Linked DNA regions of Homo sapiens. The protein of the gene in region 1 purifies or fractionates together with the protein of each later gene. This does not show direct contact. Each region holds a gene or a part of one and is shown in the gene's direction. Other genes may lie near its edges. The genes, in order: BOD1L1, KLHL7, ANKRD13B, TACC3, GTSE1, SETD1B and ADNP.

Region 1 (4,279 bases):
TTATCCGAAATGGGTGGGACCAGAGGTGTTTCAAATTTTGGAATTTTTCACAATTTGGAATATTCGCATATACATAGTGACAAATCTTAGGGATGGAATGCAAGTCTAAACATGAAATTCCTTTGTGTTTCTTATATGTATATGCACATAGCCTGAAGAGTATTCGATACAATGTTTTTCATAATTTGGTGCATGAAACAAAGTTTTGACTGCATTTTGACTGCCACCTGTCACATGAAGTCAGGTGTGGAACTTTCCACTTGTGACAGCATGTCAGTGCTCAAAGAGTTAAGATTTTCAGATGAGGGATGCTCAACCTGTAGTAGTGAAACTGGTAACAACCTGAGTGCTTCACAGTATGGAAATGTTTAAATCAAGTGTAGATCCAGTCCTGCAAAAATACAGTATGCAGCTATTAACATACTATTGATATGGAAATGCTATTTACCTATTTCTTGGATTCAAAAATATTTCCAATTATAAAATGTACCACTGAATTAATAACAGCTTTTTAAAGAAAATTACTACCTTATTGTTACATATGTATATTGGTTTTAAGATAGCTTACAATTTCAGAAACATTAAAATATGAAAAGTTGTAAAATATGAAAAGTTCAGAATCAGGAAATATTGTCACATAGGAAAATGATTTGAAGAAACTACCCCAAAATGCTAGTAGTGATTAGCCTTCCCTTCAGGCTTATCTTTTGAAAACATTACTTGGTTAGAAGTTATGCACCTGCTTAGGATTTTTGGCACTCTGAGCCAGAAAGAGATAGTAGGAATAGCACAATGACTGTGAATTCTTTCTGCTGTAAAAGACCTGCAAGTCCTGAGTCCCTTGGGTCCCAAGCATATAACCAGCAAGTCATATATGTTGTAGAACTAGCCTATCACTTGAATTTTTATTTCAACTGTTTTCTATAAGAACAGTTGAAAAGTTATAAACACCTACCTATATATACTTGATGTTCATAGATATTTTCACAGCTATCATTTTAATTGAAACAACCAGCTTATTTAATCACTTTTCCCCAAAATTATACCTTTCCCTTTCTTTAATGGCATTCTTAAAGAGTAATGGCAAATTTTCACATCTGTTTCTTCTATTCTGGTAGCTTCTAGATTGAAACATACACATACATATGTATGTATACACACAGAGATAAATGTGTGTATATATATGTAGTGTATGTGCATTTTTTCAGAGCCCGTTAATTTGTAAGAACATCTGAAGGGTAAACTAAAACTTTAAAAAAAATACAATTTTTCAGTGTGTTTTTGCCTTTGCCTAATAATCTGTTAGGGTATTTTGTGGTTTTAGGCCAAAGAAAAAGAAGAGAGGCTTTTAAGAAGGCAAATCAATAGAGAAAAACTTGAAGAAAAACGAAAACAGAAAGCAGAAAAGACAAAGTCTTCAAAAACCAAGGGTCAAGGTATAGATGTCAACTTTTAATATTTTAAACTATCTCATATATTTCATTATTTTCTGGGTACTCTTATATTACTTATGAGACATGAATATAAAATAAAATGATCTAGTCTCAAATGTGGAAGATTTCCTTACGTTTTAATCTCATGTGTTTCATCATTTTTCTTTTTTATTAAATTGCTAAATCTAAATTAAACATTTTACCAGAAACCAGCTTATGCAACTCATTTGTTAGCAGTATATTTTTCTGTAATGATTGAATCACTGGAAAGTAGATTGTTAACACATGAGTTATCAACCCTTGCTGGTGATTAATGAAATTAATCTATGCTTATGTTAACTAAAATGTCAAACATTTCCCTGTAATATTGTGTTGAACAAAATTGTATTCCCTCTGGGCACTAATCCTATGTAATATATGAAATCACACATACACACACTTATGTGATCATTTGAAATAAGAGAGATAAGACTTCTTCATCCAAAATATTATATCTATTCCAGCACAACTTAAGAATATTAAAGCCATTTTGGCTTTAACAATGATTAGAAAAATCTTAATGAAAAATTAATATTACATTGTTTGTAAAACTTTTCTGAAATACGTTTTATTGATTGCTTCTTTTCTAGGCAGGAGTAGTGTGGACTTAGAAGAATCATCAACAAAGAGTTTGGAACCTAAAGCCGCCAGAATTAAAGAAGTCCTTAAAGAACGGAAAGTTTTAGAAAAAAAAGTAGCCTTAAGCAAAAAGAGAAAAAAAGATTCAAGGTACATATTTTATCTGGTCATGTTTCCCTTATAACACTCCCCTGGGTGCTTTCAGAAGAGAGGAATTGAAGTGACAGTAAAGAGTTGTACTTTGGTTGTGTATGTTACTGCATGTTTATGAAGGACCTTAGGGTTTCATATTTAGTATCAAAATGTTAATATCTATAACATTTCTAAGTAGTGTATCCTAATCTTTTTGGGCGTCCCAGATCTTTTTGATAATTTGGTGAGAGCTTTAGACCCTCTCCCCTGAAAAATGTACATGCATAAGCTAACAATTATCCCTAGACTTTAAGAGTTTATGAATCCTCTAGAAGTTCCCTGGAGGTATTCCTCTTGTTGGTGTTCAGTAACCACTTATTTTCAATTATTATTTCCAGTCTTTCCATGCCGTTATTTTTACCAGTATTCCATGATTCTCCCCCAACCCAGAATCTGGGCCAGATTCCTTATTAACCCTGCATTATCATCGTTAACTTTTTAAGAATTAGAAAGCTAAAGAGACTCTTGAGGGTAGCTATGAAGTCATGTGAGCCATGGGCTGCAATTTTGCTATTCCATCAAGTTGCATTTATGTAAATTTATCACAGACTTCAGGATAACTGATTTGATAATTTGCAGAACTTGGTAAGAGTAGTAAGCTCTCAAATTTCTTACTATTATTACCTCTCATCCTTATTGATCTGAATAAATAAGACTGCCCTCTTTACTCAAAAGATAGTAATTTTGAAGTGTAATTATAGCCCATAAAGCATTCATCTTTAAGCAACAAATTAGGAATTTTTGTTTCAGCTGTACTTTCCTTTAGCACCAAGAACAGTTAATGCTATGTTTGGGATTGTGCTCTCCTTTGTTGACCAATAATTGATAGGATTTAAATTGAAATGTAACAAGTCTGCATTTGTCGATCAAGTGTATAAATTATAGTAAACAGCTGGGCGCGGTGGCTCACGCCTTTAATCCCAGCACTTCGGGAGGCAGAGGCGGGTGGAACACATGAGGTCAGGAGTTTGAGACCAGCCTGACCAACATGGTGAAACCCTGTCTCTACTAAAAATACAAAATTAGCCAGGCATTGTGGCGTATGCCTGTAATCCCAGCTACTTGGGAGGCTGAGGCAGGAGAATTACTTGAACTCAGGAGCGGAGATTGCAGTAAGCCAAGATTGCGTGATTGCACTCCAGCCTGGGCAACAAGAGCAAGACTCCACCTCAAAAAATAATAATAATAAAATAAGATAAATAAAAATTATAGTAAAGGAAAGATTTTTATTGTTTTCAACCTTCCTGAAAAATTTTCGTATTTGATTCATGCTTTATATTTGACTCTTTCCCCCTTAGGAATGTTGAAGAGAACTCCAAAAAGAAACAGCAATATGAAGAAGATTCCAAAGAAACCCTTAAAACAAGTGAGGTATGCCTTAATAAAACCTCATTTCAAATGCTGTTTTGTTAGATATAGGCTGTTTATTCCTTTGGAGTAAAACTTAGAATGTAATTTGACTTTTTTCAAGTCAAATAAAAAGTCAACTTACATTCAGCATTTTTGAAACCCCATTTTGTTATGTCCCAAATTGCCCATTTTGTTGAGTTGATTTATATATTTGTCGTTTATCTAGGTAATAGCTACTCTTCTTCTCTTTTCCCATTTCTTATAATTGCAATAACAAAAATGCCAGTAATGACAAAAAAAGAAAAAGGGAGGCTAAAATTAAAATCTAAAATCCCTCCACTATAACAAATTATCCTTTTTATTCCCTCTCATTCCTTATCCACGGGTCCACATAATTTTTTAGAGTACAAGTAATCTGGCAAACTGTTTTTAACATTTTACTCATTTCATGTTACCTTCTAGGCATCCTAATTATTTAATGATTGTCTAGTGTTACATATAATGTACATACCATAATTTATTTAAGCATGTCCTTATATTTTAGCGCTTAGGTTGTTTCCAAGATTTGATCATTTTAAACAGTAAAAGTAACGTACAATGTTTTCTTCCCCCTTTCAGGATTATTTTCGTGGGACAAACTTTTGCTTTCACTGTTTTAAAATTCTTTTTTACAAAAACCACATTAT
Region 2 (4,279 bases), on another chromosome or scaffold:
ATAAATACCATGCCATGCCATCTTCTAAGGGCACTATGCACCCCTGTTATTAAGAGGAGCTCTTTGTTCTGTCTTTGGTGTGTGGTGCATTCATGAAAGTCTGCAGCACATCGGCAAAAAGTGGGTTTTTCCTGTGTTTGAACTTATATAAATGTAATCATATGGCATAAACTCTTGTGTTTTGTTTTCTTAAAGCCAACATTGTTTGTGAGATTCATCTGTGCTGTGTGTAGCGCTACTTCATCCTTGTGGTATATAGTATCCCATTGAATGAATATAGCACAATTTATCCATTCTATCATTATGAACATTTGGGTTATTTCTAGTTTGGAACTATTAAGACTAGTACTACTTTGAACATTTTTGTACACTTTGTACATGCCTTTTGGTATGCATATGTATGTATTAATATTTGTGTTGGGAAATACCAAACAGGAATTTTTGAGTCATAAGCTATACCACCTTCAGCTTTAAAAGATATCGTCGTGTAGTTTTCCAAAGTGATTGTACCATGTTACGCTTCTGCCAGTTGTGTGTGAGAGAGGTTTTTGCTCCGCATCCCTGCCATCACTTGATGTTGTCAGTCTTATCACTTTAGCCATTCTAACTGGGTGTATAGGAGCATCTTATTTAATTGGATTGAGTACCTTTTCATTTATTTCTTTAACTTTTTGCTTAGATTAATGTTATTACCTGATATGTAAAATAGAGGCTTTACAAGGCAGGTCTGGGTCACAGTCACTATTGCACATGCACATTGCTGTTGCCATACTCTTCTTTTGTGTTAATGAAGTCCAGGAGTCTCTTAACATTGGAGGAAGATGTTTTAAGACCTTCCTGAGTACCACCATAGTTTATAGTTTCTCCACATTAAATGAATTAAAGCATAACTGGAACTTGAAAGCTTATGTTAAAGTCCTTATTGAGAGTTATGTGAGAGAACTACAAAGCTGATTTCACAATTAGATACTGGGCAGTTAACTGGGCTCACCTTCCGGCTAAAATGACTTTGCTTCTGTATTCTCATCTGTCTGACTGTAAATTACTACATGTCATTATCTTTAGGTTCTCTTGTGAATAATCTAAACCTTCAGTGTTAAACCCTTGATATTAATAAGACTTCTTGAGCACTTATAACTGTTCCAGCCACTCTGCAGAGTGTTTTACATGCTTTGTCTCATTTAATTCTCTTAACTTTCATTGACAATTCCAGTCATCCAGACCTTCTTATTCTTTTTCCTGTACTTTACTGTTTTCTGTTTTCTTTTTCTGTCTGTCCAGCTTAGAAGCTATTGTCACTCCACTGTCTCTCCAGTGTCCCAGTTTTCTTGACCCTCTGTCCCTTTTTCATGTCCATCTGGCAAACTTGAGTATTGATGACTGATTACCTTCTTTGTGCAAGGCTCCAAGCACAGCTGGAAAATATCTCACTGGGCAACTTCTGCCAAGTAAGTGCTTGGCCACTAATTTCCACTAGACTATCAGTGCCCGTGAGCAATCTTTTTGTTTTACTATTTTCCTCCAATCTGAGTCCTTTCTCTAGATCCTCACTTTCAGCAGATCACCTTCTTTTGACACCATAGATAAATAGAAGTCATTAGTCTAGAACTGTCTACCTTTTCACTTTCTACCACCAGATCTATAAACCTATTTTGACACTTTCCCTTTTCTCTTCTTATCCTGCTACAATGGAGATGCTGCTGCTTTTTCTAAGGCCAGTACTTCTACCTAGGCTTTGGCTTCCTGGATGCTGGGCTTCTCAGAAGTATTATACTGTTGGTTATTCCATCTTTGTTGAGCATCTTTAACTTTTCTTCTTTGCTGGATTCTTGCTATTAGCACTTAAGCTTGTTTTAACCTCTCCAGCTTTTGAACCAAACAACCAGCAAACCCATTCTTAATCTCAACATACCCCTCTAAATACTTCTCTCCCCCCATTAAGATGAAAAGCTGAGTAAATTCACTACATTTTCTTTTGTTTTTTTTTTAATTTTATTATTATTATACTTTAAGTTTTAGGGTACATGTGCACAATGTGCAGGTTTGTTACATATGTATACATGTGCCATATTGGTGTGCTGCACCCATTAACTCGTCATTTAGTATTAGGTATATCTCCTAATGCTATCCCTCCCCCCTCCCCCCACCCCACAACAGTCCCCAAAGTGTGATGTTCCCCTTCCTGTGTCCGTGTGTTCTCATTGTTCAAGTCCCACCTATGAGTGAGAACATGCGGTTCACTACATTTTCTTACTTACTATTTATTTATTACTCTAGTTCAATTTGGCTTCCAAGTTCATTCATTGAAATGAATACTTATTGACAACCCACTGTATGCTAAACATTTTGCTAGATTCTGGGGTTGCAATGATAAGCAAACCCTGACAGTCCCAATCCTCTTGTGGTTTATAGGCTAGTAGAAAAGCAAGACATTAGTCAAGTAATCACACAAATAAATGTAATATTGCAACAGTGGTAGGTATTACACAGGAGAATAACATGGTACAACGAGGGCATATGGGTGGGTAATTTGACCATCAGGAAGTTTTCTCTAAGGAAATGGTCATTGAGAGCTGAAATAAGAGTAGGTGTTAACTAGGTAAAGAGAAAAGGGAAGAGTGACTCAAGTAGAGGGAACAACATATTCAGAGGCTCTGAGTTGGAGACCTACTTTATTATAGAATGGCAAGTTCGAGACTGATTAAAGGTCAGTGTAATTGGAGCACAGAACATAAGGCGGACGATGGTTCTAGATGAAACTGGCGAAGTAGCTAGAGACCTGCCCATGCATAGCTTCATAAGTCAAGTTAGGTGATTTGCCCTTATTCTAAAATCTGTGTATGCATGTTTGTGTGCATGTGCATGCATGTTTGTAGAGATGGTATGTTTTCTTCTTTAAAAAAGATGACTTGGCCTGGCACAATGGCTCACACATGTAATCCCAGCACTTTGGGAGGCTGAGACAGGTGGATCACCTGAGGTCAGGAGTTTGAGACCAGTCTGGCTAACATGGTGAAACTCCATCTTTACTAAAAATACAAAAAATTAGCCAGGCATAGTCGCACGTGCCTGTAGTCCAAGCTACTCAGAAGACTGAGGCAGGAGAATTGGTTGAACCCGGGAGGCAGAGGTTGTGGTGAGCCAAGATTGCACCATTGCACTCCAGCCTGGAGACAGAGTGAGACTCCGTCTCAAAAAAAAAAAAAAAAAAAAAAAAAAGACTTACTGCTTTGTGGTAAATGAATTAAAGAGTTTTCAGAGTGCTTGCTGGCAGACCAAATAGGAAGCTGTAGTGGTCCAGTGAGACATGATGGTCCTTTGGACTGAGGTGATGACAGTGGCAGCCATAAGCAACATCAATGAAGAAAAAGTGATAGATTAAAAAGATAATAAAATCAACAGGACTTGGTGATGATAACTGCCATATGTGGTTGTGATAACTAAATTAGGTAACCAAATTAAGATAACTTAAAATACGACCTGATAACAAGTAACATCTCAGTAAGTGTTAGCTATTTGTATTGTGATGCTGGTACATGATTGGATGTTGAGGGATTCAGCATAAGGTGTCACTTATGATCTCTAGGGTTCTGGAATGCATAACTAAATGGATGATGACACTATTCACTGAGAAAGGAGGTATTGGAAAAGGATCAAAGCATTGGGGAAAGGATTATAATTTGTGTTTTAGATGTGTTTAATTTGTGATATCATTGTGACACTGAAGTATATATGACAAATTGACAGGTCTGGAAAGTTGTGGGTTAGATGTATATATTTGTGAATTATCTGCATATAGAAGATAACTTCTTCATTGAAGCTGTGAAGAGTCAAGAGTCCAGAGTCCAGAATAAAGGATAGAAAATGGGCCTATGGAGGAGATAACAAAGGAATCACCAGAAGAATAGGAGAAAAATGAGAGTTTCGAAAATTGGGAAGAAATTGTTTCTCCTTCCCAGCAAGTCAGGATGGCCAAATGGTCTAAAGCACTGTATTCACAGGAGGACTGCAACTTTTGAAGCTGGTAAAAGATCAGAATAAGATTAAAACTAAAAATACTTATAGTAGGACATAGCAACACAGAGTGGTTTGTTGACTGTAGTAAGACTTATTTTGATGGGCAGACAAATGGGAATCAGATTAATGTAAGCTGAAGTGAGTAGAATATGAGGAAATTCTGGCAGCTGTTTTGAGAAATTTGGCCTTGAAGGGAGAGGGAGTCAAACGAAGGTTGCTGGGTTTTATTTGTTTAAATGGGAAAGATATAGGTGTCTTTAAA
Region 3 (4,929 bases), on another chromosome or scaffold:
GAGCACGTGGCAGCTGAGAGCGCGGGCCGAAGCGCAAGCGACCTGGGTTCAGTGTCTACCGCCGCCTGGCAAAAAAAGAACACGGCCGCCCAGGGGACAGTTCCCCACAATCGACAACTCCCCACAATCCATCCTGAACTCCCCCTGTCCTCGGACTCCTGGGCTTTGCTGGGGAAGAAGGATGATTCACTCTGCTTACCCCTCCACCCCACTCCCCATCTCCTGGTTGGCTCAGAGACTACCTGGGAGTGGCCCTGGCGCGGACACATCGTCCAAACTTTGTTTCCCCCAGCCCCGTCACAGCCAAACTTCTGGGCCTGGGACTGGAGATAAAAGGGTTTCTGGATTCCCCCGTGGAGATGTCACCACCCCAGGAAGCAGGACTGCTACAGTGGAATCACACACAAGGTTCGAAAAACAATTTAATAAGGAAATGCACAGGCATGCTCCCGGCCACTCCTAGATGCCCCTCAACCGCGCCAGCCCCCTCCCCTGCACTGGCTGCAGCCACGACACTCTGCTGACCCCTGGTGGTGCAGGCGGGCAGCGGTCCCGGGCCCCCGGAGACGCCAGCTGGCTCCTCCCAGGCGGGAGAAAGGGGCGAGGCAGCCCGCTCCTCCCTCATCTCTTCCCGCTGGGGCCTGGCACCACAGGGTGTGGAGGAGGAAGGAGGGAAGACCACACAAAGAAACCTGAGAGAGTTTGCAAGCTTTTGCTGGCACCTCCCACACAAACACTTCTTGGATTGTTGTTTTAAGTAGGGCCGGTGTGGAATCCCTTATTCCTGCCTTGTTCTGAGGTGGGCTCAAGAAGGCACCGTGCCTGGTCCCGCCACCTGTCTCGGCCCGCCTGGTTGGGGGAGGGAGGCGCTGTTTCCAGGGCAGTCATTATCCTTAGCTCACCCCAGGAGGTAGTATCTAGATTCTCATTTTGAAGGGGAGTGGACCGAGAAAGTCGGAAAAATTAAGCAGTTTGCTCTTTTAAGGTCAGGCAGTTGGAGCTATTCGAACTCTGGTCTCTCTGACATCACAGTCCCCTCCCTCCAGGGACTGGTCCAAGCCTCTTGGTCCTTCCAGGCCTTGCAATTGGCGCTTGAGAGGCCAATTCAACTTTTACCACACCCTCTGCAGGGACCATTCTGGAAGTACCTCTTCACCCTGGGGTCATTCAGGAAGGAGACAGTCTCTGGAATCAGTCACTTCCCTTCCTGAAGGGCCAGCTGGGTGGAGGAACGGAGCTGCCACCTGCTGCTTTTTCTGTCCAACCTCACTCTGGTTCTTGCTGGGGACAGTGTGCGGGGGGAAAGGGACCATCTTTCCCGCGTTACTGGACATTCTGTTTCCAATGACATGTGTGGAAGATGGAGTTTAATTTTCTAACAGGGCAGGGAAGACTCCTCAGAAATGTTCCAGGGGCCAGACCCCTGGCTGCTCCAATGACCCTTGGTACTGATGCCCCACACCTTTCTCAGGAGTTCCCAATCAGACGCTCTCTTCTGGGAATCCGGATCCTTCTTCATGGCCCCTGGGACCCAAGCTCAATTCTGAAGACCACACCTCCACCCCGTCTCCCAAACGCTCGACCTAGGCCCGTGCCCCCCCACTTCCCCAGCAAAAGGCAAAATGCCAGCGGGGGAGGTGCGTCCCAGCCCACCTGGCGTCAGGGCCCCGCCCGCGTCTGGGCCAGGCCTGACTCCCCGCCCACTCTCCCACGAGATCCGGGGACAGTGCAGACCCTCTTCGGCCACCTGCCACCCCCAGTTTCACGAGGCGGACTACAAACCCCATGATGCCGCGGGGCTGAGCTGACAAGCTCTACCCGGGGCGCCTGGTCCCCTTCCTCTCTCCCCATCATCCCCACATCCCCGTATCCCGCGCCGGCCGCTCGGGCTGAGGGCCGGGCTATGCAGCTGTGGGGACCCGGGGGCTGCGGGCGCGCGTCCCTGCGGCGGCGTCCCCGGGGCCCGCGTCCCGTGCGCCCCCGCGCCCGCTGCGGGCGCCTGCTCCCTCCGCCGAGCGGCGTCTTTGTGTGCGGGGGTGTGGGAGGCGAGCGCGAGTCCGCGCAGCGCCGCCGAGTGCCCGCTCCCTCCCAGGGCGGGTGGGGGCCTCTCCGCGCCGCCCGCCGCCGCCGCCTCGCGAGGACGCCCGTCGCCCGCGCCGCCCGCACCGCGCCGGGCGCGCCGCCCCCGCCCGCCGCCGCTCGCACATGCCCGAGCCGCAGCCCCGCGAGCAGGCAGCGCCGGCCCCCCGCCCCGCGGCCCCGGGCCCCGGCTCCGGCGCCGTCCCTCCTCCCCGGCCGGGCGCCGCGGCCCCGGCATGAGGAGCGGGCGATGATCCCCGCCAACGCCTCCGCCAGGAAGGGGCCCGAGGGCAAGTATCCGCTGCACTACCTCGTGTGGCACAACCGCCACCGCGAGCTGGAGAAGGAGGTCCGCGCGGGCCAGGTAGGAGCGCCTTCGGGGCGCCGCGGGGACCCCGCGGCCGGGCACGCCCGTCCGGCCTGGGGAGGGGGTGCGGCGCGGGCTGTCCCGCCTCCCTGGCGAGTTTGCGGCGCGTCTTTGTTTGCGGCCGCGGCTTTTGTGCTTGTTGACCGGGAAAGGGTGATCCCCTCCGGCCGGGACGGGCGGGACCACACGTGTTTCGGACTCACCTAGATGAGAGTAGAGGCCTCTGTGCCCCTCCTCCGCCGGGGCAGTGAGGGCTGCAGGGAGGGGCTGCGGGCTGTGTCGGTGTTCCATGTGGTGGGAGAGTCCGCCCCAGCCAGTTGAGCGGCGACACCTCCCGAGTGAGGGTGCGGAGGTGGGAAAGGCTTGCGTGGGGAGGGGGCCATAGGTCAAGAATGGGGAAGAGGCTGTGTCACACTCCCAGGCACCCCAGCCCCACCCAGCGCCCTCTCCCCAACGGTGAGCGCTTTCTCTTTTAGCTCTCAAACTGGGCAGATCCTTGGATCTCTCAGAGCCCAGCCCCAGCTCAGGAACAGGGAGTGGAGAAAGACCCTCTTGGGAGGCCCCAAGGGCCTTGTCCAGGTGCTGAAAAGCGCTCTCCTGCCCTCTGGTGCTGGGGCCTGGTTTCTAGGCGCAGAGGAAGCTGAGGGGCCCTGGCTGCTGGAAGGACTTGAGGTTCTGCGCACCAGGTGGGCTCCCTGGTTTCTGCTGGTCAGTAAGGCCACGTGGGTCACCAGCTTTGGGCTGGGCAGTGGTCTCCAGAAAACAGGGGAAGGGGGGATGTCTTCTGGCCATGCTTCAGGATGTCTTCTGGCCATGCTTCAGAACAAAGGCAGGCACAGGTCACAGATTGCCACTTCTGCCCTTGGCACCCAGGCCACAGGTAGGCACTCATGGCAGAGATGACCCCCCGCCTCCAGGGTGGGCTGCAAGAGCCAGAGCTGGGCCCGGGTCCCATGGCTTGCTGCAGGCTGAGAACCCCAGTTTTGGACTGGGTCTGAGACCTTGGGGCCATGGGCTGGGGGTGGTTAGCGCAGTTGCCCGCTGTGGGAATTTACCTTCTGAGGGCTGCTTATTGAGTCATGAGAAGTTCAGTCTGAGGAGCTGTGCAATCGCCAAGGGAAGCATGGAGGTGGAGGGCAGGCCATCGGACTGAGCAGGCTGGGGGTCAGGATGTGTCTCTGAAGTCCCACGCTGAGCCAGCCCCCAGGCCTGCATGGCATCCAGCTCTGCATGGCAGTCCCTGTAAATATGCGAGTGACCTGTGCCCGCAGGCCTCTGGGCCGGTCTGGGTGGCCACTTCCTGTTACCTGTGCCTATGCCAGCACTCTCCGAGTTTCTCCTCAGACTGAACTCCTCAGACCCTGTCTTTGTTTATCTATCATAAAGGCAGTGCTCTGCAGCCACGAGAAGCCTGTTAAAGAGAGTGGGTCACAGTGCCCCCAGGAAACAGATGAACAAACAGGGCATCAACCCCTGCCCTCAAGGAGTCTCTGTTCTGGTGAAGCAAGTGTGAACAGGAAATTCCAGGGTGATGTGCAAAGCGCTAAGACATGGCCAGCCAGCCTCTGCTGGCTCTTCTCTGCTTTCCTTCCCTGAAAGCAAAAGAAGACAAGCCTCATGTGGGAAGAACTTCCCAGGGGTCCAAGGATCACTAGGCAGAAGGCTGAATCTCCAGAATGCCTCAGTCCCACTCCCTTGCCTGAGGGTGGGTGGTCCTTTTACTGCAGAGACTGGAGAGAGGCAGAATGCCCTGGGAGAAAAGACTTCTCCAGCAGGCCTCTCTGCTGATAATCCTGAAGTGGGTGGCCATCTTGCTGGGGTAAGGTTGGGGTGGGGGGCACCGGAGCCGCTGCAGGTAGAGGTGTTGGGGGCTGCTCATGTGTTTCTCTCTCCCACCCCTCTGGCTGCCTCAGAAACAAGGTCCCAGATTCACCCCTACCCCTGCCCCAGTGAGTTAATGTCTCCTTGAAATGGACACTGCCTGTCCTGGATCCAGGCCAGGGGGAATATAGGGCACTGGTGGAGGTTAACCCTTGTTCAACCACAGAGGAGCCAGGCCAGTCCTCTCCTTCCCTCAGGCGTGCCAAAAAGAGGAATGCCACTCCGTGTAGGTGGGAGAGTTCCCTAGCTGTCTCCCCTCTCGAGGACTGGCCCAGAGTGAGGCTTGTATCCAGATGTACACTGCCTACTCCCCAGGGCACCAGGCTCTGTTTTCTGCAAGGGGGACCTGGGGACAGCCACCTAACATCATGAGAAAAGCACTGTGGAACCCTGGCATCCCAGCCAGGGGTCCCTGGCCTCTAGTCCCCCTGGTACCAGCCGCCACAGAAACAGCTCGGCTTTCCTCAAGCACTCAGGAGCCAGGTTTCCCTGGTCTTGGCTTGGCATAGCTGCCTCTTCTTCACTCCAAGAAAGCCCCGCAGAGGCCCTCCGTGGGCAGGCTTGGCAGTGCAGCTGGCTGAGGAGGGGGCCAGCATGGCCAC
Region 4 (4,279 bases), about 12 Mb from region 1:
CCAGGTTGGAGTGCAGTGGCATAATCTCAGCTCAGTGCAGCCTCCACCTCCCAGGCTCAAGGAGTTCTCCTGCCTCAGCCTCCCTGTAATAGGAGTGCAGCACCGCGCCTAGCTAATTTTTGTATTTTTTGTACAGACAAGGTTTTGCCCTGTTGAACTCCTGGGCTCAAGTGATCCACTCGCCTCAGCCTCCACCCTTAGTTTTAATCAAAAGTTATATTATCAAAAATTAAAAGACTTGTCTAGGGTAATTTTAAAGACTAATAGTTCTCAACCAGAGCAGTTTTGCCCCCGCCTTTCCCCAGATGTTTGTGGTTGTCACACCTGGAGGTGCTGCTGGCAGGGAGTGGGTAGAGGCTGGGGATGCCGCTCAGCACCCTGCGGTGCCCAGGAGGCGCCTGCCGCAGACAGCAGTCAGGCCCCGAACATCCACACCTCCAAGGGAGGAAATACTGCTGGCTGGAATGATCCTGCCTCACTGAGTGCTGAGGGAGACACCAGCCCGCCGCCCTTAGGGCCCTGGTGAGGGGCGATGGCGGCGGCATGATTCACTCCTCTCAGTTCTAGGCACGGGCGCGGAGGTGGATTACCTGGAGCAGTTTGGAACTTCCTCGGTAGGTACCAGGCAATTCCGCGAAGCCTCACCCACAGGGTGTCCGAGAGCAGCCACGGCAGGTCTTGCCCCCGGAGCGTCCCTTGGTGCCCACGTCCCCCCAGCTGCACACAGGCCCAGGCATTGTGGCGGGCTGTGAATCCAGGGCCCCTTCTGCAGCACCTCCTCTAAGTGGTGTCCTGTGGCAGGGCTCTAGGGCTCTCTACCTGGTGCCTAGCCCAGGATGAAACTCTGACACGCTGTGCTGCTGGGAATGGTGGTGTCTCGGGCAGGGTTGTGGGTGACCGGGGGTGGGAGTGTGCGGGTGACCGGGGGTGGGAGTGTGCAGGTGACCTCCCTGGCCCTTAGCCCCCGTGTGTGTTAGGGGATGGCAGTCAGACCTGATCACTTGCCCTCTTGTCCCCAGTTTAAGGAGTCGGCCTTGAGGAAGCAGTCCTTATACCTCAAGTTCGACCCCCTCCTGAGGGACAGTCCTGGTAGACCAGTGCCCGTGGCCACCGAGACCAGCAGGTATGTGCGCCGGCCCTCCCTCATGCATGAAGCCTTGAGTGTGGGAAGACTGGAGGCTGTTCCTAGGTGTGCTGTCTGCACAGAGGCTTCTAGACCGGGGGGAGATGATCAGAACTGGAAAGGAGCTGTGCTAGGGGTGGGCTGGGCAGCAAGGCCAGAGCAGCCCTTGTGTGTCTGGCAGGAGCAACGGCAGCCTACCCTCCAGCCACAGGGCTGCTGCCTTGCTGGTTACAGCCACCGTTCTAGGTATATTAAAGATCTAAACTTAAATCTTTTAAGAGTACTTCCTCTAAAACAGAGGTCGGCAGGCCAGGCGCGGTGGCTTACGCCTGTAATCCCAGCACTTTGGGAGGCCGAGGTGGATGGATAGCCTCAGCTCAGGAGTTTGCCACCAGCCTGGGCAACATGTTGAAACCCCGTCTCTACTAAAATACAAAAATTAGCCGGGTGTGACGGCATGCACCTGTAGTCTCAGCTACTTGGGAAGCCGAGGCAGGAGAATTGCTTGAACCCAGGAGGCGGAGGTTGCAGTGAGCTGAGATTGCGCCACTGCACTCCAGCCTGGGCAACAGAGTGAGACTCCATCTCAAAAAAAAAAAAAAAAAAAAAAACCAAAAAATAGAGGTCAGCAAACTATCACCTGTGGGCCAGACTTGGCCACTGCCTGTTTGTGTAAAGTTTTATCGTCACAGAGCCATGCCCGTTCCTTTGCAAATTGTGGCAACTTTCACACTACAAGGCCAGAACTGAGTAGTGTGACAGAGGCTGTGTGGCCTTCAAATCCTAACACATGGCCGGGCGCAGTGGCTCACACCTGGAATCCCAGCCCTTTGGGAGGCTGAGGCGGGTGGATCGCCTGAGGTCAGGAGTTTGAGACCAGCCTGGCCAACATAGTGAACCCCCATCTCTACTAAAAATAACAAAAATTAGCCGGGTGAGGCGGCAGGCGCCTGTAATCCCAGCTACTTGGGTTGCTGAAGCAGGAGAATCGGGTGAGCCTGGGAGGCAGGGGTTGCAGGGAGCCGAGATCATGCCACTGCACTCCAATCTGGGTGACAGAGTGAGACCCTGTCTCGGAAAAAGAAAAAAAAAAAGGCTCTGAGCTGTGAACAGCCCCCTGATGAGGCAGCACTGGCTCCGCTCAGCCTGCAGTGGGTAATGAAGCGTCACCGTGCTCTCCCGGAAGGACAAGCAGCCACGTGGGATGGGCAGGTGAGGGAGGGGGGCACGGAGCAGCAGAGAGGCCGGGCATGCTGGATGCGGGTCTGCGTTTTCTACCACTACCCTGACTTGAGTGGTTTTAAACTAAAAAGCAAAGAGCCCGGTTAGCTTGTCCACATGGTCCTCTGTGTCCTACTCAACACTGGGAGGGCCTAGTGACTGAGGCTGCCTCTGCTTGGTGGCAGCATGCACGGTGCAAATGAGACTCCCTCAGGACGTCCGCGGGAAGCCAAGCTTGTGGAGTTCGATTTCTTGGGAGCACTGGACATTCCTGTAAGTCCTTGAGTCCCTCTTGAACTGTCTTGTGTGTGGTCTGAGGGAACGAGTTGTTTTAAGGGCCTATATTTTCTATTCCTGGGGGTCTGAGCCTTTGGTTTTGTTGGGGGCATGGGGCCGCTGTGCTGTTCCCTCGCCGCACTGTCTCGGGTCCCTCATGCACTGTCTGAGGCTCTTGGCCTGTGTGGGCCTTTCCTCCCTCACACTAGGTCAGAGGTAAGAGGCAAGGGCGAAATGGGTTCCTGTTTCATCCCCATCTCCCGCAGGTGCCAGGCCCACCCCCAGGTGTTCCCGCGCCTGGGGGCCCACCCCTGTCCACCGGACCTATAGTGGACCTGCTCCAGTACAGCCAGAAGGACCTGGATGCAGTGGTAAGGACGCAGGTAGTAGCTATTCCACAGAACCTGCAGGCCGCTCTGGGGCTTGGCCAACAGTGGGCAGGGGTCCAACAGCCTGACCCGCCATCCCTGCCATCCCTGCCCCTGCTGGTTGGGGTGGAATTGCAGAGAGCTGCCGGCCCCTGGCCTGTCACTACTGCCCAGGTCGCTGAGGGTCCAGGCTTCCACCCAGTGTCCCCGCAGTCAGCTGCCCACCAGCAGCCTCCCCGGGACTCTCCGGCCTGGGCATGGCGTTGGCCTCTGGTGGCCTTGCAGCAGTGAGTGTGGTTCTTGCTGCCGTGAGCCCGAGTGTCGCCCCTTTCCTCCCGCCCTCCCACGAGTCCAGACGCATCTCCTGGCAGCTTAGGAAGCTCCATCTTCACCCACCCCACATCTGAGGGTCCCGTGCCTTGTCTCCCTCCATCCTCACTGTACATGCCAGGCTTCAGCCTGTTCTAACTCCGGGCCTAAATTGTCCCTAAGAGAGCTGTAGGCACACAAAGGGGCTGGGTGTCTGCAGGCACCACTGTGAGCTACCGTCGCCAGATGGTCCCCAGGGAGGTGCAGACAGGGTGGTTCCGGAGGCCGGCTGGCAGGGCTGGGTTCAAGCCCCAACATCCACACCAGTGTTGTTCACAGTGGCCCCAGGTGTCATCTCCGCAGAGGCCTGTGATGTGGCCCTGACCCCGTACCCCAACAACCTCCTTCCCTGTGTCAGAGCCCGTGTGAGTAACCCAATAGCAGGCCTGGGGACCACAGTGTGGCTGGCCCCCTCCTCTGCAGGCCTGGGCTCCGGGGGCAGGTGGCCCCTGCATGTAACTTATGTTAGAAATGCACAATGCTTGTTCTCTGGTGCCACAAAGAAATAGTGCTCGAACATTAATTTTCTCAGCAAGGCAGTTTTTACTTTCTGCAGAAAGGGTGCCCCTCGCAGATGGAGCAATGGCAAGAGCACACCTGAACAAGGGAGGGGAAGGGGTTCTTATTCCTGACACAGGTAGCCCTACTGCTGTGTTGTTCCCCTGTTGGCTAAGGTTGGACCACACAGTCTAAGCCAATTCCAATTGGCTATTTTAAAGAGGGCAGGGTAAGAGTCAGAGTGGTGGGGTGAGTAGTTTGACGGGAAGGACGGTTAGGAACAGGTAACTCAAGGTGACTTAGGTCAGAGCAGGTGACCGGGATGAGTCAGGATGGAGCAGGTGACCAGGGAACAGATGTGAACTACTGATTAGGACTGGCGGGAAAATTGTTTACTGAAACTAGAAGCAAGGGGCGAAGAGAA
Region 5 (4,279 bases), on another chromosome or scaffold:
TTTCTTTCTTTCTTTTTTTTTGTTTTTTGTTTTTTGAGACGGAGTCTCGCTCTGTCACCCAGGGTGGAATGCAGTGGCGCGATCTCAGCGCACTGTAACCTCCACCTACCGAGTTCAAGCAATTCTCCTGCCTCAGCCTCCCGAGTAGCTGGGATTACAGGTGCCCACCACCACACCCGGCTAATTTTTTTTTTGTATTTTTGGTAGAGACGGGGTTTCGCCATGTTGGCCAGGCTGGTCTGGAACTCCTGACCTCAAGTGACCCACCCATCTCGGCCTCTCAAACTGCTGGGATTATAGGTGTGAGCCACCGTGCCCGGCCCAGCCTTTTTCCTTGAGCTACAGTTTGGGTAGTTTCTGTTGTCAGATATCATTTCTTCTGCAGTGCCTAACAGCTGTGAAGCCCATCCAGTTAACTTTGTTTCTAACATAATAGTTTCCCCTTATTTCTTCTCATGGTACTTGGGTTTTCTTTTACATCCTCGTGAGCAAATTGATAATGGTTTTAGGGTCTACGATTCTTCTCATACCATCTTCCCCATCATTTTGGGGTCTGTTTCGACTGACTAATTTTGTTTCCGGGTTTTGGCCTCATTTTCCTGCCTCTACATTTTTCACAAGTTTTTCTTGGTTGTTGGATATTGTCAGGTGTACACTTTTGAATGTCTGGATTTTGTTGTCTTTCTCTGAGGAGTTGGGTTGGGCTTGGCAGGCAGTTAAGGTGCAGATCATCCTTCCGAGGCTTTTTATGCTTTGAAGTGGTGGGTCTAGCATAGCCTTTCCGCCTCCCGCCACCGGCGTCCTTCCCAAGGCCTCTGCTGCACACCCGTGTGTCCCGCAAGGCCCGCGAGACCCCTGCACTCCTGCTGCTGCAAGATGACACCTTCTCGGCCCTGTGAGCTCCGCTCGTTGCTCCCTGGTAAGACGGCGGTTTCTCGGCCCTGTGAGCTCCGCTCGTTGCTCCCTGGTAGTTGCTCTTCTCTTGACCTTGAGGACTCCTGCCCTGCACCTGTGCACTGCCTGGTGCTCAGCCAGAGACTCGAGATTCCCTTGGGTTCCTAGAGCTCGTTCTGTCGGAGTAGCCCCCTCCTCTCTAGTTTCTGGCCCTCAGATTGCAGCCACCTCAGCCTCCTGAGCTCCAGCCACTGCCTTCTCCAGTCAGTGAGGCCACTGGCCCCAGCAGGTGTCTGGCCATTAGTGGGTGGGTGTTTGTAAAGTTTTCATGAATTTCTTGAACAATTGTGTGCAATGCAGAAAGTTCTCAGAGCTGACTTAAGGTGAGAGGAGCGTCCTGGCCTCCTCTGTCAGGCAGATCTGCCCTCTGGGTGCTTGAGGATTTTAAGTTCTGGCAGTGCCGGCCAGCACAGGCAGCCTGCAACTCCCAGAAACTGCATTCTGAGTCCTGCTGTAGGAACAAGCTGTTCTGCTGAGTGTCTTCTCTGTGCTGGAATGCTTTGGGGGACAAGGGACATCATGATAAGACAGACCTACTCTCACAGAATTTCTGTTTAATAGGAAAAGATACGAAATGTTATCAGATGAGCAGGCCTGCAGATCCTAGCACAACAAAGGGACTAAGGGAAGATGGTGTCCTGGAGCTGGCATGTTTGGGGAGGAATTTGCATCGGGTGGTTCTTTGGCAAAGATGGTCAGGAGGTGACACGGGACTGAGATCTGAACCAGGAGACTGAGGCAGCCGGTAGGAAAGTGCAAGGGGGAGCACTCCAGGCAGAGGCAACGGCAGGAGTGCAGAGGTCCTGGGGCAGGAAGGCGTGGGACGTGCTCTGGGAGCAGCATGGGGGCCGGAGGGTGGGAGTGCAGCCGCTGCGGTCGGGATTCTGCGTAGACGTGCGACAGCTGGTCAGTACTCCTTGGTGTCAGGGACCCAGGCTTACTCCATCCTGTGCTGCCGTGATGAGCTTCTCATCCTCATGGTCTAGTGTGGCTGCACCGGCTCTGGCCCTCATACCTCCCGGCAGGAAGCCTTCTTCTAGGTGAAGAAGAGCAAATCCCCACCTTTCAAGGACCCTCACTGCAAGTTGTCCCTGTGACTCCGTTTGTGTCCCATTGAGTACGACGCTTCCCTGCACAGGATGCTAGGACACGTTGTCTTTATTCCGCACACAGCTGAAATTTCTTACTGAGAAGAGGAAAGTTGCTGTTGAACAAAAACTAGCAACCTCAGCCAGTCAGTGACCGAGGGGCAGGGTAAGAAGAGATGAAGATGGAGGGGCAGCCCGAGGCCGGCTCCCAGAGCGCCGCGTGACCAGAGCGGACCCTGGAGTACCGTCAGTGCAGGAGGACGTGCATAGGAGAGATCAGAGCAGAGCGACTTGACCTTCAGAAGGTCCCTCCACAGAGGGAAGAGCAGAGTCTCTGGGCCGAAGAGTGGTGGGGAGGGTAATGCGGACCTGGCCCTCACTGTGTTGGGGAGGAAGCTAGTGCTGGGGAAGGAGGCTGGAGCGCTGCGGTCTGCCTGACGTTCTGGTAGCTTAGGGCTCATGTGGCAGTGCAGAGAGGGACTCGAGTGTCCCTGAGGTTCTGGCGGAACCTGGGTGCTGCCACTCATGTGACAGGAGGGCTGGAAGAGGCAGCGGGCAGAGTCCACGGCCCCATTTTGGAAGTAGTGAGGGTGAGAGGCCACTTAGGCTGCAGCTGAGGGGTGGAGCAGGCTGAGAGCTCAGAGGAGAAGCCACAGCTGGAGACCTCAGTGTAGGTTTCAACAGCAGAGAGCTGAGTTTGTAGAGATGGGAGCTGTGAGCTGGGCACGGTGGCTAACTCCTGTAATCCTAGCACTTTGGGAGGCCGAGGTGAGCAGATCACCTGAGGTCAGGAGTTCGAGAGCAGCCTGGTCAACATGGTGAAACCCTGTCTCTACTAAAAATAGAAAAATTAGCCAGGCATGGTGGCGCATGCCTGTAATCCCAGCTACTTGGGAAGCTGAGGCAGGAGAATCACTTGAGCCAGGAGGCAGAGGTTGTAGTGAGCCGAGATGGTGTCACTGCACTCCAGCCTGGGCGACAGAACGAGACTGTCTCAAAAAAAAAAAAAAGAAAGAAAGAAAGAAAAGAAATGCGAGCTGTGATTGGGTGGGTTCTGCAGGGACACCCTACGGCCCAGGTCATGTGGAGGTGTGTTCAGTAGTGTTTGCTTCCCTTCTGCCTGAATGCCTGGAGCCAGGACATGCGTCTGCCATGTCTCTCCTGACCACGTTGGCACAAGTGTTGGCTGGTCTCCTGGCTGTCGGGCTGCTTGATGCCACAGGACTTCTGCTAATCCCAAATCCCTGTTGGCTTTGCCCTGTTTCCCAGAGCGTGTCCCTGCGGTCTCCTTACGCACCTCTCAGATGTGCATTTCACCTTCGGCAGGCGGTTCCTCCTCTCTCCACAATGCTGGGAACAGGACTGTCTCTTGCACGCCTTTGGTCATTCATCAGGGTCAAAACTGGTCCCACAAACTCAGCACTGGCCGGAAGAGAGGCCCCAGGGGAGCAGCCACGCTGTTGGGAACACACAGCTCTGGGAGGCACGTGGTGGTGTGCACTTTTTGGCTGAGAGCACTGGTGGTGTTGCTCATTGGCTGTGACACCAGCTGTCACCGTGGAGGAGAGGTGAGGGCTGAGGGCACTCACAGCGTGGGACCACATGAACGGTGCCCTGTAGTGGAGGCTTTCATATGTGCACTTTCTCAAAATACTCGAGGCAAGCAGCATTCTTTGTAAAACAGTCCAGTTACAAATGTTGCTATTTACTATGAGTCCATGCTGCCGGGTCACCCAGAGGATTGAGACTTGGAATTCTGGCTGTGGGCTTTGCCTCCCCGGTACTGGGAGCTGCAGTGGAGACGCGCCGTCCAGGTTTAGGGAAGAGCTGATGTGGGCCTGGGAGGCGTGCGTGCTCAGGCAGCCCTAGGGCAGTCGTGAGGGTGTCAGGAGATGGCTTGTTCGTGTTCTGTTTCATAAGAATGACCTTCCCGTGCCACCATGGAAGCTGCTGAAGAGTGCGCTCCACCCAGCTGAGGGAGAGGACAACCGAGAGGAAGGGGTCTCGGGAGAGAGGGAGCCAACACGGGAGGCGGCAAGGGAGAGGGAGGCGGCGAGGGAGAGAGAGGTGGGCTTGCCTCCACACCCGCCAGGAGTGACCAACTTGGGTCTCACAGAGACCTCTGTGAATGGTGCGGGGTCAGTGACCCAAGAATGTTCCCAAAAGACAGGGATTATGGGATGACTTAGTCACAGACCACCCCACTCCATACAAGAAAACAAACACCAGCCTGGGCG
Region 6 (3,353 bases), on another chromosome or scaffold:
CTTCCTGTGAATGCTGCTACGTTGTTTTGTCTTCTCTATTTTTTTCCTCGTTGTGAGAAAAGACATTTAACCGTTGAAATGTGAAGGTGGAATCAGAGAGGGGCCCCGCGGGGGTCTGCAGAGGCCTCAGTGTGGCTGTGCGTGGCCCGTGTCCTGGAAGCCACCCGGACCTGGACGCAGGGCCAGGTGCTGTGGGAAGGATGGAGGCCCCCACGGCCTTGACCTCAGAACACTACGCCCTGAAAGCGCCCCTCACTGCCCGTGGGCACAGTGAGGAGACCCCACACCTTTCCCCACCCGAGCTGCAGCCTGTTCCTTCCCCAGAGGCCTGGGGCACCACTGACCCGGTGGACCCTGATGGAGCTAAGCTGTCCCAGGCAGGGGTCTCCGCTCTGGGCTTTCCCTGCCACCTCACACCCCAGCACCCCCTAAACCTTGGGTTCAATGTTTACTTTCTCATTCGGATGCCAGCAACGCGGGAGCCTCTCGGAGGCCCCAGTGCAGGTGAGGGGCGCTGAGAACGCGGGCAGCCACTCTCTTCTGCCCTTGCCTTCGCCCTGGGTGGGACAGGGCTCCCAAGGGCAGGCGGGTCCCCCAGTCCCGCCATTACGGGTTGTCAGACCGTCTGCGTGTGGCATTTTTTGGCTTATAAGCTTCACCCACTCACCCCCAACCCACACCCCACATCCCCCTGCCGGCAGCCCCTCAACCTAAGAAGGCCAGAGCATATTTATTTTCGGAGGGAGCAGATTACTTCTCCCAGAGAAAGGAAAATCTTGGAAAAGATTTAAAAACACAAATCTAAGCCTTGACGGTTTTTTTTTCCCTTTTGACCCCCTTCCCATCTCTTCAGAATTTATTCCCATGGCTTTTTTTTTTCTTGTGCGTGTATAAAATCAAAAGGAAGGGGAAAAAGGTTTTTGAAGTTCAGAACCAACTTCTGTATATAGAGGCTGCCGCAAAGGACTTTCTCTTGGGAACATTGTTTCTTGTAGAAACATGCGGGAAGACATTTTTTGCTCATTTCTTTGTACTTCCAAAAAAAAAGGAAAAAAAAGACAAAAGCAAGTCCCCCCGTACCCCAGAAAGCAGAGGAGGCGTGTAAATAATTTCTGGAAAGTGACTGTTGTGACCCGGAGTCCTCATCAAGATGAGCGCGCTCCATGAGGGAGCTGCTCCCACCCTGCGGACGCAGGCGGCCGGAGCCTCTGGTATCTCAGCTTGTGTCAAGCTTGTTATCATGTAAATTCTGTACAAAGAATTGTTATTTTTCTCTTTTTTGTTGTTGGTGGTTTTGTTGTGTGTTTTTTGTTGTTTTTTTTTTATTCCTTTCCCCCAGGCCCTCTCTATTTGAGACTGTGCCCGCCGGTTTCAAGATCAAGGAAATTGGTGGCAACAAGACACAGATGGGGTACCTGGGCACAGCGGCGAACTTCTCTTCCGTTTGCGGTTTTCTGCCTAATTGTGCAACTGAGGAAATAATTTATTTTTCACATGAGGAAATGCGTAGCTTGTAGAGACGGCTGATTCAAGTTACATGTACAGCCTCCAAAGGGCTGTCTCCATTCTGTCCCCTTCCCATAAAAGAAGTGGGGGTGTTCGAGAAGACCAGGGAAGGGACCCTTGCCTCACCCCTCCCCCTGGCCTCACCTTGCTCCCAGCCATCGTGCCCAGTGTTAACCTCGGCTGGCCTTCACTAAGGGGACTAGACCTCCCTCTCCCCAGGAGCCCCAGCCCCAGAGTGGTTTGCAATAATCAAGATATGTGTCGAGTCATTTTTCTTTCAACTCCCTCATTTTTCATTGAACAAATCTCTGCTTTTCAAGAGTTGGGGGTTTCTGCTATTTTTTGCTTTCTCTCCCTCCCCCTGCAAAGATGAGAACCAATGAGTTTTAGGGATGTTTGTGCGGGTAGACTCCATCATCCATATGTAACTTGTTTTGAAGAGAAGTGTTTCCGTTGTGTGTCTTGATGTAAATATTTGTTCATATTTTTGTGAATTCAATACTATGTACCATTGTATTATAGTAACTTTTATAAAGCAAACCATAAATATACTGACTTTTCTTACAGATACGCCGTCTCTCTTGCTCTCCTCTCTCCCTCTCCTCTTTATTCTTTCTTTCTGTTGGGAGCACATCCTGCTTCTGTGGAGGGTGGAGTGGTCCACTCAGACACTCAGATCAGCAGGGGTTTTTTTGTTTGTTTTTGAGACAGGGTCTCACTCTGTCACCTCAGGCTGGAGTGCAGTGGTGCAATCATGGCTCACTGCAGCCTTGACTTCCTGGGCTCAAGTGATCCTCCCACCTCAGCCTCCTGAGTAGCTGGGACTACAGGAGCACACCACCATGCCCAGCTAATTTTTAAGAAATTTTTCTGTAGAGACGGGGTCTCCCTATGTTGCCCAGGCTGGTTTCAAACTCCTGGGCTCAAGCAATCCTCCCACCTCAGCCTCCCAAAGTAGTGGGATTACAGATGTGAGCCACCGTGCCCAGCCTGAACTTGTAGGTGGGTTTTGTGAAATGGGCCAAATTATAGTCACCACTAGACCTTCCACAGCTTTTAAGTGTGATTTCTAGATTTTTTTCTTAAAACCTCAGGTTTCTGACTCATGAGGTCTGCAATGAAGGAAATAAGATCAGGTATCCTTTTACTATCACTAGAAGAACGTAGGTGGTTCCTCAGAAATGTTTAACACTTAAGGAGATGCCCCCCTGGTCTGCATTTGAGGGAGGAAAAAGGGCTGATAAAATAGTAGAAGTTGAGAAGAATTAAATCTATCCTGTATTCATGGCATTTCAGAGATGCTGTGCCCCAGTCAGTCTCAGCTCTGCTTGACCCAGTAGACGGGTGATAAAGGGCTTATAGTTGGCGTCCACGGTAAATGTCTCCAAGAAGACGTAAAACCTTAGCAAAAAGCAATATGCCTGAAAAGACGCTGTACGTCACTTCCTACTGGAGAAATGTGAATTATCCCAGGATGCCGTTTCCCCCTGTCAGGTTGGCAAATATTAAAAGGTGGAGGAAACCCAATTTGAGGGAGCAGGAGGCTGGGGTACTCTCGTGTGTCATTAGGGGAAGCCAAAAATCACTGCAACCTTTAGGAGGAAAAATACCTATTAGTAATCATTATTTAAAATGCACACGGCCGGCACGGTGGCTCACGCCTGTGATCCCAGCACTTTGGGAGGCCTAGGAGGGCAGATCACCTGAGGTCAGGAGTTCGAGCTAGCCTAGCCAACATGGTAAAACCCCATCTCTATTAAAAATACAAAAAAATTAGCCGAGTGTGGTGGTGCACGCCTGTAATCCCAGATACTTGGGAGGCTGAGGTGGGAGAATCGCTTGAACCC
Region 7 (4,279 bases), on another chromosome or scaffold:
TGTACACACTAGATGAGGATATCTATGCACCTTTTTTGTCAGATGGGTAGGTTTTATGATCCTATCATCAGTGGAATTAGTAAATATTACAAGTTGTACGTGTTTTGACTTTGACTTAAATTTTTTTTTCCAATAGAAACTATGTTCCAACTTCCTGTCAACAATCTTGGCAGTTTAAGAAAAGCCCGGAAAACTGTGAAAAAAATACTTAGTGACATTGGGTTGGAATACTGTAAAGAACATATAGAAGTAAGTAGCATGTCATTTTTAAATTTTAACATGACTCAGCTTCTGATCCATTACTTTGTGTCAGTGGCCAAGATGGCTAAATCTTAGATGTGATTCTGAATTTCAGCCACAGCAGTAGCTTCACGAAAACATTCTCAATAGCATTAACTTGTGCCTTTCTCCCTAAAATGGGCTTTTTCATTTTTGCATCCTGAAGCAGAAGGCTACCATTGAGGACTTAAGCATGTCAGGCGTTGAACTAGGTGCCGTAAAGTTGTCTATACATTTAATCCTTAGAACAACCATGGAGGCGGGAGGCAGTGTAGCAGTTCTTATCTCCACTTCACAGATGAAGAACAAATAAATAGGCCCAGCCTTGCAGCTGAGAAAGTGGCAGTGTCTGTGGGACTCAAAGCCTGTTCTCATTCTGATACGCCTGAATGTTCTGGTTGACCTTCTTCTAATTGTTGAGGCGTGCTTGTGTGGGTGCTTGTTGTCTCTTTCCTTAGGATTTGAGCATTTGTTGCCCCTTTTGACCCATCATAGACTATTACTTTCCCCCTTGTATAACAGTTTGGGCTTTATGAACTGTTTTTCAAGCTGTTTTATTCTATGAGCTTTATAACAGCTCTGTGGGATAGCCATGCAGTGGTCTCCTTTTCAACATCTCACTGTTCCAGGTCTTATGGTTTGTTGGTCAGAGCCCCTGATTGAAAAGAAATGTTTGAAGCTGTTTCCCCCACTAACCTTTAAGTTCTAGGTGGCTAGGGAACATAGCTACCTTGTTTATCCATTTAGCCCCAGCACCTAGCACAGTGTTTTGCACGTAATAGGTGATCAGTAAGTGTTTGAATGGAATTGGAAGTAAAAAAGCAAATTCATTCATACAACAGGTTTTCTTAATTTGAGTTCCACTAATAATACTTGAAGAGTATGGCATGGAAACAGAAGCTGCTCAAAAGTTGACTTCTCTAGTCACGTTGTTCCAAGTGTGGAAGTAGCCCTTCTCCAACCCCAGAGTTCAGGTAGATCTGCCCAAATGAAACAGTCCATTCACTTTGCACTCTGTGGGGTCATCTTCATAGAAATAATTAATACCAACATCACAGTACATTTCTGTCATGCATTTGATTTGTTCCTCCTATGATTATTTATGTGTAGACTTCATTTTCCACCTTGAACTGTGAACTTTTTAGGAACAAGTGGGATTTTACCCTAAGACTTTTAATCTTCCTAGTCTGGAGGGAAGTGGACCATTAAATTTTTACATGAGAGTATAAATTTAACATCATACTGCTTAACTTTCTTTGAATAGCTTTCTTTCTGCCTTTTTGGGTTTGAAATTTGAGTTTTCTTCCTGATCTGATCTCCTGCCCCCTCCCCTCGAAAAAAATCTTTTTTTTGCACAGAACCAGAAATCATATTTGCAGTGCTGTAAGCAAACATTGCTATTTTAGACACCATTCCAGTACTGTAACTGACGAGTTAGAGTACAGTACTCTAATGAAAAGTGCTTTGATATTAGTGTGTGGCTGAATTTTTTACTTAATTAGAACTTCCAGCAATTTCCTTGGAAACCTGACTGACCATCAGGAAAGTGGTTGGTTGATATAAAATGTAGACTGCAACTTCCATATGCCTTTTTATATTTAAGAGCCTTATCACTCCTAGTTTAAGTCCTTGTTGACGTTGGTTTTCCTGTGCCTCTCCCCATCTTAGTTAAGAGGTGAGATTTACATGTAAGATTGGGTTAGCGTTTATACCACTATGTTTTTGTAAACTTATTTCACTGTTTTCTAGGATTTTAAACAATTTGAACCTAATGACTTTTATTTGAAAAACACTACATGGGAGGATGTAGGACTGTGGGACCCATCACTTACGAAAAACCAGGTAAGTGGCACAGGAGACTTCCTCAGATGGCAGCATGCTTGGTATACTCCCTTTTCAGCTCTAGGCCTTTTATAGCGGTGCAGTGATTGCGGGCAAGTGCCAAACATCGAAAGTGTCAAAATTGCATTTCATATTTTCCTGACCAGTGGGAAGACTAAGAAAAACTTTTTGTCCTTTTTTGTCATTGGACTAAAACTTGAGGTGTAAGAAGAAACAAAATTTTGTTACTTAAAAGTTACGAAGCCTGCTGTATCCCACCATTTCCCCTAAAAGTGCTCTGGCTCTATTTTTCTGCATCTGTGTTGCCATTCTTGTTTTTTCTGCACAGAAAAAGACAAGACCCTTCCTTACATTTAAGCTTTTCTTATTTCCCTATGTTGATGGCACCCAACTTCTATGGGAGGCCTGGGGAAGTGACTCTGTAGGATGTCAGTGACAGAGAGATAAAACTTCTTACAAATTGGCATTAAAAACAATATTAGCACTGCCAGCAAGTATCAATAGATGATGATGATGTCATATAGGTGATATTTCCTTCTGCATAGAGAGAGGTAATTGTCAATTTAATTTTTACCATTACCTATTTTAGGAGTGATTCTCATTCTGCATTAATGATCTGTTCATCTATCGGAACATACTTTTCAGGAAATTAGTACTCAGATATTTGACTTTTTTTTTTTTTTTTTTTTTTTTTTAAATACCCCAGGCAAAGTTACTAACCAGCAGTCTTAGAATGAGAATGCTTTCCAGTGGGACACATCATTTATTTAATTCAGTTTTATCAATCTGAAAGCCTCATAGCTGAATACTAAAGAAGAGTTGAGCTTTGAGGAGAAGCAGAGTATTTCATCATGGTTCAAACCAGTATCTGAAACAAGTAGGTTTCTAGGGAGAAAAGATAATCTCTTACCAAGCATGTCAGTTCACCTGCCTTCATCAAAGGACTGACTGCATAGGTGTTAACAATCATAATTCTGAAAGTTGCTCTTTGATATCAGTATATTCTATAATGTATTATTGGCTTTTAAATACCTCACCCTCCTCACAGTCTGTAGGACATTTTTATTTAACTTCTTGATTTGAATCAAAGCAGCTATTACTTCATTAGCTCTTTTGAAGTGTTCTTGGTTGAGAAGGAACAGCAAGGCTTATAGAAGAAAGCCAACTTTTCAAATCAGTCTTTCTTTTGATCAGCGCTGAATCTGATACTACACTGTACTTTAATCAGAGGAAAAAATGGAGATTTGCCTTTTTTCTATGAAAATTTATCCATAATGAGGAAAGGAATAAAAGATATAGCTTTATCTCTTGTAATTGTCTAATTGCACTAAAACATCGTGGGCCCTGAATTTTACCGCAGTCATTCACCACATAACGACATTTTGGTCAGTGATGAACTACATCTACGACAGTGGTCCCATAAGAATATAATTGAGCTGAAAAACTTGCTACCTTATGACATCATAGCGCAACATATGATTCATGTTTGTAGTGATACTAATGTAAACACACCTGTGCTGCCAGTCATAGAAGTATAGCACATACAGTTATTTACAGCGTATAATACCGTCGTGCATTGCTTAATGATGGGATGCATTCTGAGAAATGCCCTGTTAGGTGATGTCATTGTTGTACAAACATCATAAAGGGTACTTACACAGACCTAGGTGGTATAGCCTCCTATTACCCCTACGCTATATGGTATGGCCTGTTGCTCCTAGGCTACAAACTTGTATGGCATGTTACTATAAGAGAATACTATATACTGAATACTATAAGAGTGATTAACACAATGGTAAGTATTTGTGTTTCTAAACATAGTGAAGCATAGAAAAGGTACAGTAAAAATGCAATATAAAAGAAAAATTGGTACACCTATATTGGGCACTTGCGGGACTGGAAGTTGCTCTGAGTGGTGACTGAATATGAAGGGACATTATTGTACATCACTGTAGACTTTATAAACACACTTAGGCTACATAAAAAGTAAAACTTTAAAATTCTTAACTTCTGAATCTTTTGTAATAACACTTAGCTTAAAACACAAACACGGCAACCTGCCCGGGTCCCCTTCCACACTGCGGAAGCTTTGTCCTTTCACTCTTCATAATGAATCTTGCTACCGCTCCAAAAAAAAAAAAAAAAAAAATTGTACAGC

What was found.
Region 2: the proteins of BOD1L1 (region 1) and KLHL7 purify together in Homo sapiens (affinity purification with mass spectrometry; one large-scale study listed by BioGRID and IntAct). This does not show direct contact.
Region 3: the proteins of BOD1L1 (region 1) and ANKRD13B purify together in Homo sapiens (affinity purification with mass spectrometry; one large-scale study listed by BioGRID and IntAct). This does not show direct contact.
Region 4: the proteins of BOD1L1 (region 1) and TACC3 purify together in Homo sapiens (affinity purification with mass spectrometry; one large-scale study listed by BioGRID and IntAct). This does not show direct contact.
Region 5: the proteins of BOD1L1 (region 1) and GTSE1 purify together in Homo sapiens (affinity purification with mass spectrometry; one large-scale study listed by BioGRID and IntAct). This does not show direct contact.
Region 6: the proteins of BOD1L1 (region 1) and SETD1B purify together in Homo sapiens (affinity purification with mass spectrometry, with the first as the bait; one large-scale study listed by BioGRID). This does not show direct contact.
Region 7: the proteins of BOD1L1 (region 1) and ADNP fractionate together in Homo sapiens (co-fractionation; one large-scale study listed by BioGRID). This does not show direct contact.

The regions. Positions count from the first base shown.
Region 1 is NC_000004.12:13,606,452-13,610,730, reverse strand, and holds part of BOD1L1 (biorientation of chromosomes in cell division protein 1-like 1), read left to right. Parts: intron 1-1,324; coding exon 1,325-1,436; intron 1,437-2,062; coding exon 2,063-2,201; intron 2,202-3,541; coding exon 3,542-3,614; intron 3,615-4,279. UniProt on the Homo sapiens protein: Component of the fork protection machinery required to protect stalled/damaged replication forks from uncontrolled DNA2-dependent resection.
Region 2 is NC_000007.14:23,108,628-23,112,906, forward strand, and holds part of KLHL7 (kelch-like protein 7), read left to right. Parts: intron 1-4,279. UniProt on the Homo sapiens protein: Substrate-specific adapter of a BCR (BTB-CUL3-RBX1) E3 ubiquitin ligase complex. The BCR(KLHL7) complex acts by mediating ubiquitination and subsequent degradation of substrate proteins. Probably mediates 'Lys-48'-linked ubiquitination.
Region 3 is NC_000017.11:29,591,293-29,596,221, forward strand, and holds the start of ANKRD13B (ankyrin repeat domain-containing protein 13B), read left to right. Parts: upstream 1-1,839; 5' UTR 1,840-1,903; coding exon of another isoform or gene 1,904-2,329; coding exon 2,330-2,443; intron 2,444-2,590; exon of another isoform or gene 2,591-2,902; intron 2,903-2,927; exon of another isoform or gene 2,928-3,236; coding exon of another isoform or gene 3,237-3,326; intron 3,327-4,929. UniProt on the Homo sapiens protein: Ubiquitin-binding protein that specifically recognizes and binds 'Lys-63'-linked ubiquitin. Does not bind 'Lys-48'-linked ubiquitin.
Region 4 is NC_000004.12:1,734,712-1,738,990, forward strand, and holds part of TACC3 (transforming acidic coiled-coil-containing protein 3), read left to right. Parts: intron 1-561; coding exon 562-614; intron 615-1,019; coding exon 1,020-1,123; intron 1,124-2,529; coding exon 2,530-2,617; intron 2,618-2,886; coding exon 2,887-2,991; coding exon of another isoform or gene 2,992-3,003; intron 3,004-3,636; coding exon of another isoform or gene 3,637-3,681; exon of another isoform or gene 3,682-4,279. UniProt on the Homo sapiens protein: Plays a role in the microtubule-dependent coupling of the nucleus and the centrosome. Involved in the processes that regulate centrosome-mediated interkinetic nuclear migration (INM) of neural progenitors.
Region 5 is NC_000022.11:46,316,945-46,321,223, forward strand, and holds part of GTSE1 (G2 and S phase-expressed protein 1), read left to right. Parts: exon of another isoform or gene 1-919; intron 920-4,279. UniProt on the Homo sapiens protein: May be involved in p53-induced cell cycle arrest in G2/M phase by interfering with microtubule rearrangements that are required to enter mitosis. Overexpression delays G2/M phase progression.
Region 6 is NC_000012.12:121,830,583-121,833,935, forward strand, and holds the end of SETD1B (histone-lysine N-methyltransferase SETD1B), read left to right. Parts: 3' UTR 1-2,074; downstream 2,075-3,353. UniProt on the Homo sapiens protein: Histone methyltransferase that catalyzes methyl group transfer from S-adenosyl-L-methionine to the epsilon-amino group of 'Lys-4' of histone H3 (H3K4) via a non-processive mechanism.
Region 7 is NC_000020.11:50,899,859-50,904,137, reverse strand, and holds part of ADNP (activity-dependent neuroprotector homeobox protein), read left to right. Parts: intron 1-136; coding exon of another isoform or gene 137-141; coding exon 142-249; intron 250-2,028; coding exon 2,029-2,121; intron 2,122-4,279.